2 linked regions of the Homo sapiens genome follow. The protein of the gene in region 1 purifies or fractionates together with the protein of each later gene. This does not show direct contact. Each region holds a gene or a part of one and is shown on either strand. Other genes may lie near its edges.

The links.
Region 2: the proteins of ZC3H15 (region 1) and HMGN5 fractionate together in Homo sapiens (co-fractionation; one large-scale study listed by BioGRID). This does not show direct contact.

The regions. Positions count from the first base shown.
Region 1 is NC_000002.12:186,492,535-186,496,368, forward strand, and holds part of ZC3H15 (zinc finger CCCH domain-containing protein 15), read left to right. Parts: intron 1-2,698; coding exon 2,699-2,800; intron 2,801-3,834. UniProt on the Homo sapiens protein: Protects DRG1 from proteolytic degradation. Stimulates DRG1 GTPase activity likely by increasing the affinity for the potassium ions.
Region 2 is NC_000023.11:81,191,713-81,195,546, reverse strand, and holds part of HMGN5 (high mobility group nucleosome-binding domain-containing protein 5), read left to right. Parts: intron 1-3,834. UniProt on the Homo sapiens protein: Preferentially binds to euchromatin and modulates cellular transcription by counteracting linker histone-mediated chromatin compaction.

The sequences.
Region 1 (3,834 bases):
GTTTTGGTATATGGATATAGATGTCATGAATAAAGAGATATTTCCCAATGAGAGATAACCATTTAGAAGCAAAACCCTCTGTACTTTTTTGTCTTAAGACTATTGAAAGATCTTTTACTGATTTTGAGGTTGCTGTAAACATTATGTCATGTTGTATGTTTTTAAATACTAATTGTTTCAGTACTATTGTTTTCTTTTTCTAGCTTGTCCACGTGGTGGTATTTTGTATCTATTATTCTTTCTACTCATTATTACTTTTCCTTTCCCTTAGAAATAATAGCAAAATAAAGGCTATAAAATGGCCACTTGTTTCATACTAAATGCCACTCAGAGGGTCTCAAATTACTTTGAGAAGACCTTTTTGCCTCTTCTTCCTCTCTAAAACCACCCATAAACAAGAGAATGAGAAAGAAATACAAATTCTATTTTGAAATTAGAAGACATCTGTAATCTTGGACCTCAGCATATGAAGATTGGCAGTAGATGGATGAGTTGGTAACTGACTTAGAGCAGAGCGGTTATGTCTGAGTGCCTGTCTAGGAGTGTGCCTGTAAGAAGCAAGTGCATTTCCTCTGCAAAATTATGAAAAAAAAAAAAAACTCAACAATGGGAAGCACTAGGTAATACAGAAGGCAAGAGGCTGAAAACTAGAAGTTAAAAGTGTTAGGAGTAATTAATAATTCTTATCTACTACAGCTCAGCCAGGTGACTACCTCTGCAAGAAACAGGAGGGGTCTTCTTGGAGGTGGGAGGTGGCAGAGAACAGGCCTCTCTGCTTCTGGAACACTAAGCACAGAGGAGGTGGGATGTGAGCCTGAAAATGGAAGCTAGTAAGTCTGTACAGTAAACTGAGACCCCTTCTACCTGCTCTTTTCTCTTGTTTACAGTTAGACTTATTGCCCTCCCAGCTGGAGGATCTTTCTCCAGAGAACCAGAAAAGACCCAGAAAAAATATTTCAGATATTAGCATTTGGTTTCTTGTCAGGCTTGTCACACATTCACCTTAGGGAGAAGCTCACTAGTCAAGCCTGCTATATGAGTTTCTTAGAACTGCTGTAACATGACTACAAACTGGGTCACTTAAAACAACAGAAATTTATTCTCTCAGAGATCTGGAGGCTAGAAGTCTGAAATTAGTGTCAGCAGGGCCATGCTCCCTCCCTCTGAAGACTGTAGGGAAGAATTCTTCCTTGCCTTGTCCTAGTTTCTGGTGGCATCTGTCAATCCTTGGCATTCTTTGGCTTATATAGCAGTGTCACTCTGTCTTCACATTTCCTTCACTTTGTGCCTGTGTGGTCCTTATTAAGGCACCAGTTATTGGATCTAGGGCCTACCTTAATCTAGTATGATGTCATCTTAACTCATTACATCTGTGAAGACCTACGTCCAAATAAAGTCAAATTTATGGTCAGGTGGACTTGAATTTTGGGGGACATTCCAAAATTCAGCCCACTACAGACCACTGCTCCCCTCCACACACACGCTTGCTCATACTTGTGCAATGGCTTCTATATGTTTTTGTACTGCATACTTATTTTTTTTAATGTTTTTCTCCCCCCAACCCCATACTGCATACTTACTAAATATGAGTAGATAGCCAAGGATCACCATTAGTGCTTAGCACATAATGAGCATTCCATAAGTGATAGCTGCTGTTATATTGAATATTACCAAGTTACTGTATTAATATTCCAGATTTAAAGAAAATGTTGCTTTTAATTTACATACTTTTAGTATTTCCATCTTAGCAATAACTAGGAATGTATACATTTCAGTAGTTTGATTTCTTTATTAAATTTAATTGTTTTTGAGAGGATAACATTTATTAACTAAAAAACCAGTCCAGAACTGAATGTATCTTCCTCTTCTTATGTAGTAGTCCCAAAAATGTGTTCAGTATCGTATAACCTCTCAAGATACTCTGAGTAAAAATGGATTCTGCTACAAAGGATGATTTGGAGGTGCTGCATATTATTATATTCCCTCTGATAAGGGCTGTAAGATACCTTGTGCTTAAGAATTAAGAATCCTTTTAATCAAGCATTTTCCTAAATGTATTTAACTACAGGACTTCTTATCCCAATATAAGAACTTTGCACATCCCATAGAACTGATATCCAAAATATGCTTTAGAAAAAGCTTCATAGAAACTGGAAACCATCATTCTTAGCAAACTATCGCAAGGACAAAAAACCAAACACCTCATGTTCTCACTCATAGGTGGGAATCGAACAATGAGAACACTTGGACACAGGAAGGGGAACATCACACACCGGGGCCTGTTGTGGGGTGGCGGAGGGGAGGGATAGCATTAGGAGATGTACCTAATGTAAATGACGAGTTAATGGGTGCAGCACACCAACATGGCACATGTATACATATGTAACAAACCTGCACGTTGTACACATGTACCCTAGAACTTAAAGTATAATAAAAAATATATATAAAAATAATAAAATTTAAAAAGCTTCATAGAATAACAGGTTTAATGATGATAATGTTGAGTACATATTGAATTGTAAAGAATCTGGGTGATGATTTAAGGTCATATATTGCCTTGACTTGATGTTTAGTGTTTTGCATGTTTTTATATTAGTAAAGAATAATTATCAATAAAAATAATGATTTTTAGATATCATTGGAGGATATATATGGTAACATAAATTGCTAAGATATTTCTGTGCTCTTTCTCATGTAGGACAAAACTTTCGGTTTGAAGAATAAGAAAGGAGCAAAGCAACAGAAGTTTATCAAGGCTGTCACACATCAAGTTAAATTTGGTCAACAAAATCCACGTCAGGTAAGTAATTTAAATGTCCATATCTTTTTATAAATGTAATATTAATATAGCCTCTGTTTCAGATAAAATGTCTGGTATTATTATATAATTGTATTTCAAAACAGAATCCTACTTGAAATGTTTTTGCACCTTGGCCTTCCTTACCAGCAGTACCTCTTGGATATTGTCCAAGCCATTTTGATATAACTCTCATTTATTCTAATAATGATTGCATGCCGTTCTACAGTACAGGTGTGTTATATTCATCTATTTCACTGTTCATAAGTGATCACTTTGTTTCCAGCTTTCTGACACTAAGACCACCTGTAGAAATACAGGAGTTCTTACATGTGTTTATGCTTTTATTTCTGTGGCATAAATTAGCTGGTAACAGACTCCAGATCAAGGGAAATGGATTTCTAATTTTAACATTATAAATTTGCCAGATCACTTTCCATAGAGGCTGTAGTACTTCACATTTTCATTTGTAGTACATGAGCAATAGATACTAAAGTTCTTTTTAATGTGTTACAATCTGATAAGTATAAAGTGATATCTTATTGTTACATTGTTTCCCTCGCTACTGGAGAGTATCTTTTGTATACTTGTTAGCTGTTTGGGTTTGCACTTCTATGACTTCCCTATTGAAATTATTTGCTTTATTGGTTGTCTTTTTCTTGTCAATTTATGAGATACCTTTTGTCTGCATTGCAGATAATTGGTGATATTTCAGTTATGTTTTGCCATGCACCAATTTTTAACTTACATGTATATATAGAGTTTAATATTGCTAGATATGTTGCTAGCTTTTTAAAAATATGGTTATAAGGTCTCCCCTGCCACTGGATTCTGCATGTTTTTCCTAGATCATTTGTAATTATTTTATTTTTATAGTCTATGTCATATGAATTTATTTTATATATCTTAAAGTTCTCACTCTGTTGCCCAGGCAGGAATACAATGGTGTGATCTTGGCTCACTGCGGCCTCTGCCTCCTGGGTTCAAGCCATCCACCTGCCTCATCCTCCTAAGTAGCTGGGACTACAGGCGCATGA
Region 2 (3,834 bases), on another chromosome or scaffold:
TGATGGTTAATACTGAGTGTCAACTTGAATGGATTGAGGATGCAAAGTATTGTTCCTGGGTGTGTCTGTGAGGGTGTTGCCAAAGGAGATTAACATATGAGTCAGTGGACTGGGAGATGCTTACCCACCCTCAGTCTGGCTGGGTACCATCTAATCAGCTTCCAGCACTGCTAGCATAAAAGCAGGCAAAGGAACATGGAAGGACTAGACTGGCTTAGTCTCCCAGCCCACATCTTTCTCCCGTACTAGATGCTTCCTGCCCTTGAACATTGGAATACAAGTTCTTCAGCTTTGGGACTCTTGGACCTTCGACCACAGACTGAAGGCTGCACTGTCGGCTTCCCTATTTTTGAGGTTTTGGAACTTGGACTGGCTTTCTTGCTCCTCAGCTTGCAGACAGCCTAATGTGGGACTTCATCTTGTGATCGTGTGAGTCAATGCTTCTTAATAAATTCCCCTTTATATATACACCTATCTTATTAGTTCTGTCCCTCTAGAAAACCCTGACTAATACGCTCTCTATCTTCCCCCCACATCCTACCAGTAATAACTCCATAGAGTGGTTGTCCAGAAATTACTTATGAACACCTCCAGTTACAGTGAGCTGAAAATTCCAGAGGCATTTCCATTCTGCTTTTAGTCAGCTTAAAACATTAGAACATTATTTTCTGAGATTAAGCTGAGAACTGTTTCCTTTCATGTTTCTTTGATTCTAATAATTACCCATTATAAACTCATCTTTATCCTTGTAATATGAAGCCTTCTCTTCTCCAACTTAGTATTTCCTGTTTCTCTAGCCATTCTTCATAAGCTGTGATCTCTAGAGGTGTCACTAAATATGTTTCAGTTTGTCAGTTTCTCTCTTCTACAAAAGGTCGTCCCAGAATTGAATGTCATAATCCAAGAATGGTATGACTAGCATTGTATAAAGTAGTGTAAGGTCCTCATTCTGGACACTTTGTTTCTCTTTTAGCCCTTTTATTTTCTGAGGAATAGTATTTCACAGTGGTTTTAATTTACATTTCACTGATTACTAAGAAGTTGTGCATCTTTTCATATATTTATTGCCATTTATATATTTTCTTTTGTGGAATATCTGTTAAGAACTTTTTCTATTTTTCTATATTTTTTTGTCTCTATTCCTAATAGCAACATTTTGTCCCTATGTGTTGCAAGTAACTTTTATCCTGAGGCTAGCCTTTTTTTAAACATTTTTAATTAGTCATATATAAAATATTTTTCTTTATGGTTAATGCTTTTCTGTGAATTTTTAAAGAAATCTTTCCAGACCCTGAGAACGTGAAAATGTTATCTTACATTTATTTATAAAAGCTTTATTGTGGTGCTTTTTACATTTAGATCTACATTCCACCTGGAATTGATTTGTGTGTAAGGTTTGAGATATATGTCAAGTTTAATTTTTTTCAAATAGCTATCCAATTATTCTAGCACCAATAATTGAAACTACACCCTTTTCCCACTATTTTGCAATACCATCTTTGTCAAAAATCAAATGATTATACATGCGTGAGTCTGTTTCTGGTGTCTGTATTCTGTTTCATTTGTCTATTTGTCTACCCTTGTGCCATTACCACACTATATTACTTATTATAAATTTAAATATCTTGAAATGTAATATGGCAAATTCTCCTACTTTGGTCTTCTTCATGAAGTGTCCTGACTATTCATTGCCCTTTATATTTCCTTTTAAAAAGGTAGAATGTTTATAACCGCAATATACAAATACAATTGATTATAGTATGTTGACCTTGTATCAAGTAATTTTCTAAACTCATATGTGAATATTAATAGTTTATCTGTATATTCTTTTACATTTTCTATTTACACAATAACATCAACCATAAAAAATGGCAGCTCTATTTTTTCTTCCAATCTTATACTTTTTATTCATTTTCATTTCCTTATTTCCTTTGACACCTCCAGAACACTCATTCCTTTCACCATTGTTGTGTAACAAACAACCCTAAAGCTTAGTGGCATGAAGCAACCATTTTATTATACTCACAGATTCTGCAGGTCAAGAATTCAGCCAGGGCACAGAGGTGACTACTTGTCTCTTCTCTACTGTAATTAGGACGTCAGCTGGAAAGCCTTGAAGGCTGGGAGTCACTTGATGGCTGCAGGCTAAAACCATTTGGAGGTTTCTTTATTTGTGTTTCTGGTGCCTTTGTTGAAATGATTCAAACATTAAGCTCAGATGTAAATGTTGACTAGAGTGCCTGAATATGGCTTCACCACATGACTTTCTCATGGCATGGCAGCTTCAGAGAGTTGATCTTCTCATACTGCAGCTTACAGCCCAATGAACAAGGCAGAAACTAGATCATCTTTTATGACCTTATCTTGGAAGTCACATAGCATCATTTCTCCGAACAGCTATAATCCAGAAACAAGAAAAACAACACTTGAATGGACTCCAAAGGAACCTTTAAGGTGACTTGGATAGGCTCCAAAAGCAAAAGTTATATGTCTTTGAAAAAAGATAGCATCATCTGGAGCCTCATTGTTAGTACCACATTTTCATCTCAAAGTCTAGCACTCGATTGAAAATAATCTTACCTAAAAAAATAGATGTGACTGAAAACTAAAGACTAGAAAAGCACACAAAAATTAAAAAGAGGTATTACCATCAAAGGAGTAGCAAAAAAAAAAATTATTGCTGACTGTACATCAGAACAAATGAGAGGCAGAAGACAATGAAAACATGGCTTCAATGTTCTAAAAGAATATAACTGTCAGCATAGAATATAACTGTGCTAAAATAATAACTGTCAGCATAGAAATCTAAAGCCAACAAAAATATCCCTTACAAACTAATGTGAAATAAAGACACTTTCATATAAACAAAAGAGAATTATTCACCAAAGTTTTACACTAATTGAAATACTAAAGAATGTATTTCGGGTAAAATAAAAAAGATTATAGCTAAGAGATGCAGCAAGAAGTGAAGAACAACAGAAATGGCAAATATCTGAGTAAATCTGAATGAGCAATGTGTAAAACAATAATAACAAATGTCTTGTGAGTTTAAAATATGTACAGAACTAAAAGACATAAGAAAAATTTAAAATTGTATATATAAATAAAAACCTTCCCACAAAGTAAACTATAGGCCCAGGTTGTTTCATTGGCAAAATTTACCAAACATTTAAAGAATAAATAATGCCAATTTTACCCATATTCTTCAATATAATAGAAGAAAAAGGATATTTCTCAATCATTTCAAGGGCAGCTTAGTGTTCATTCCAAAGCTTGATGAGTACATTTCAAGAAAAGAAATACACAGGCCAATCTCATCTCTTGAAAAATAGAAGCAAAGTTACTAAACTAAGTAGTATCAAACCAAATCCAGTAGTATATAAAAAGGATAGTACTTTATGACCAAGTTGGGTTATTCTAATTGTTAAGCAGAACACTGGGCATCACTTGCTAATCCCAGGAATTGACTCTAATCACATATGCCCATTGCATCGCTTTATCAGAGTCATGAAGGAGAACATAATGCAGTCAAGCCCTGGATGAAACAACACTTTACTTATATAGAAAAAAAACAGAGCACAATCAGCTTCAATAGTGTGTGTTGGTACCCTCCATGGCTAGACGGTACCCCCTAGCAACAAACACAGAGCAACTGGATAAGCACACCCTTCTTGTGCCTTAGAAAAAGGACCCTTATCCACACCCACACCAACCCAGTCTGAAAGACAGAAAGCTAGGACATGTCTGAGAGCCATGGATGCATACACTTAGTAAAACAAAAGAACACTTAGTAAGTCTGAAACAGAAAAATATTTCTAGCCTGGAACAGGGTGT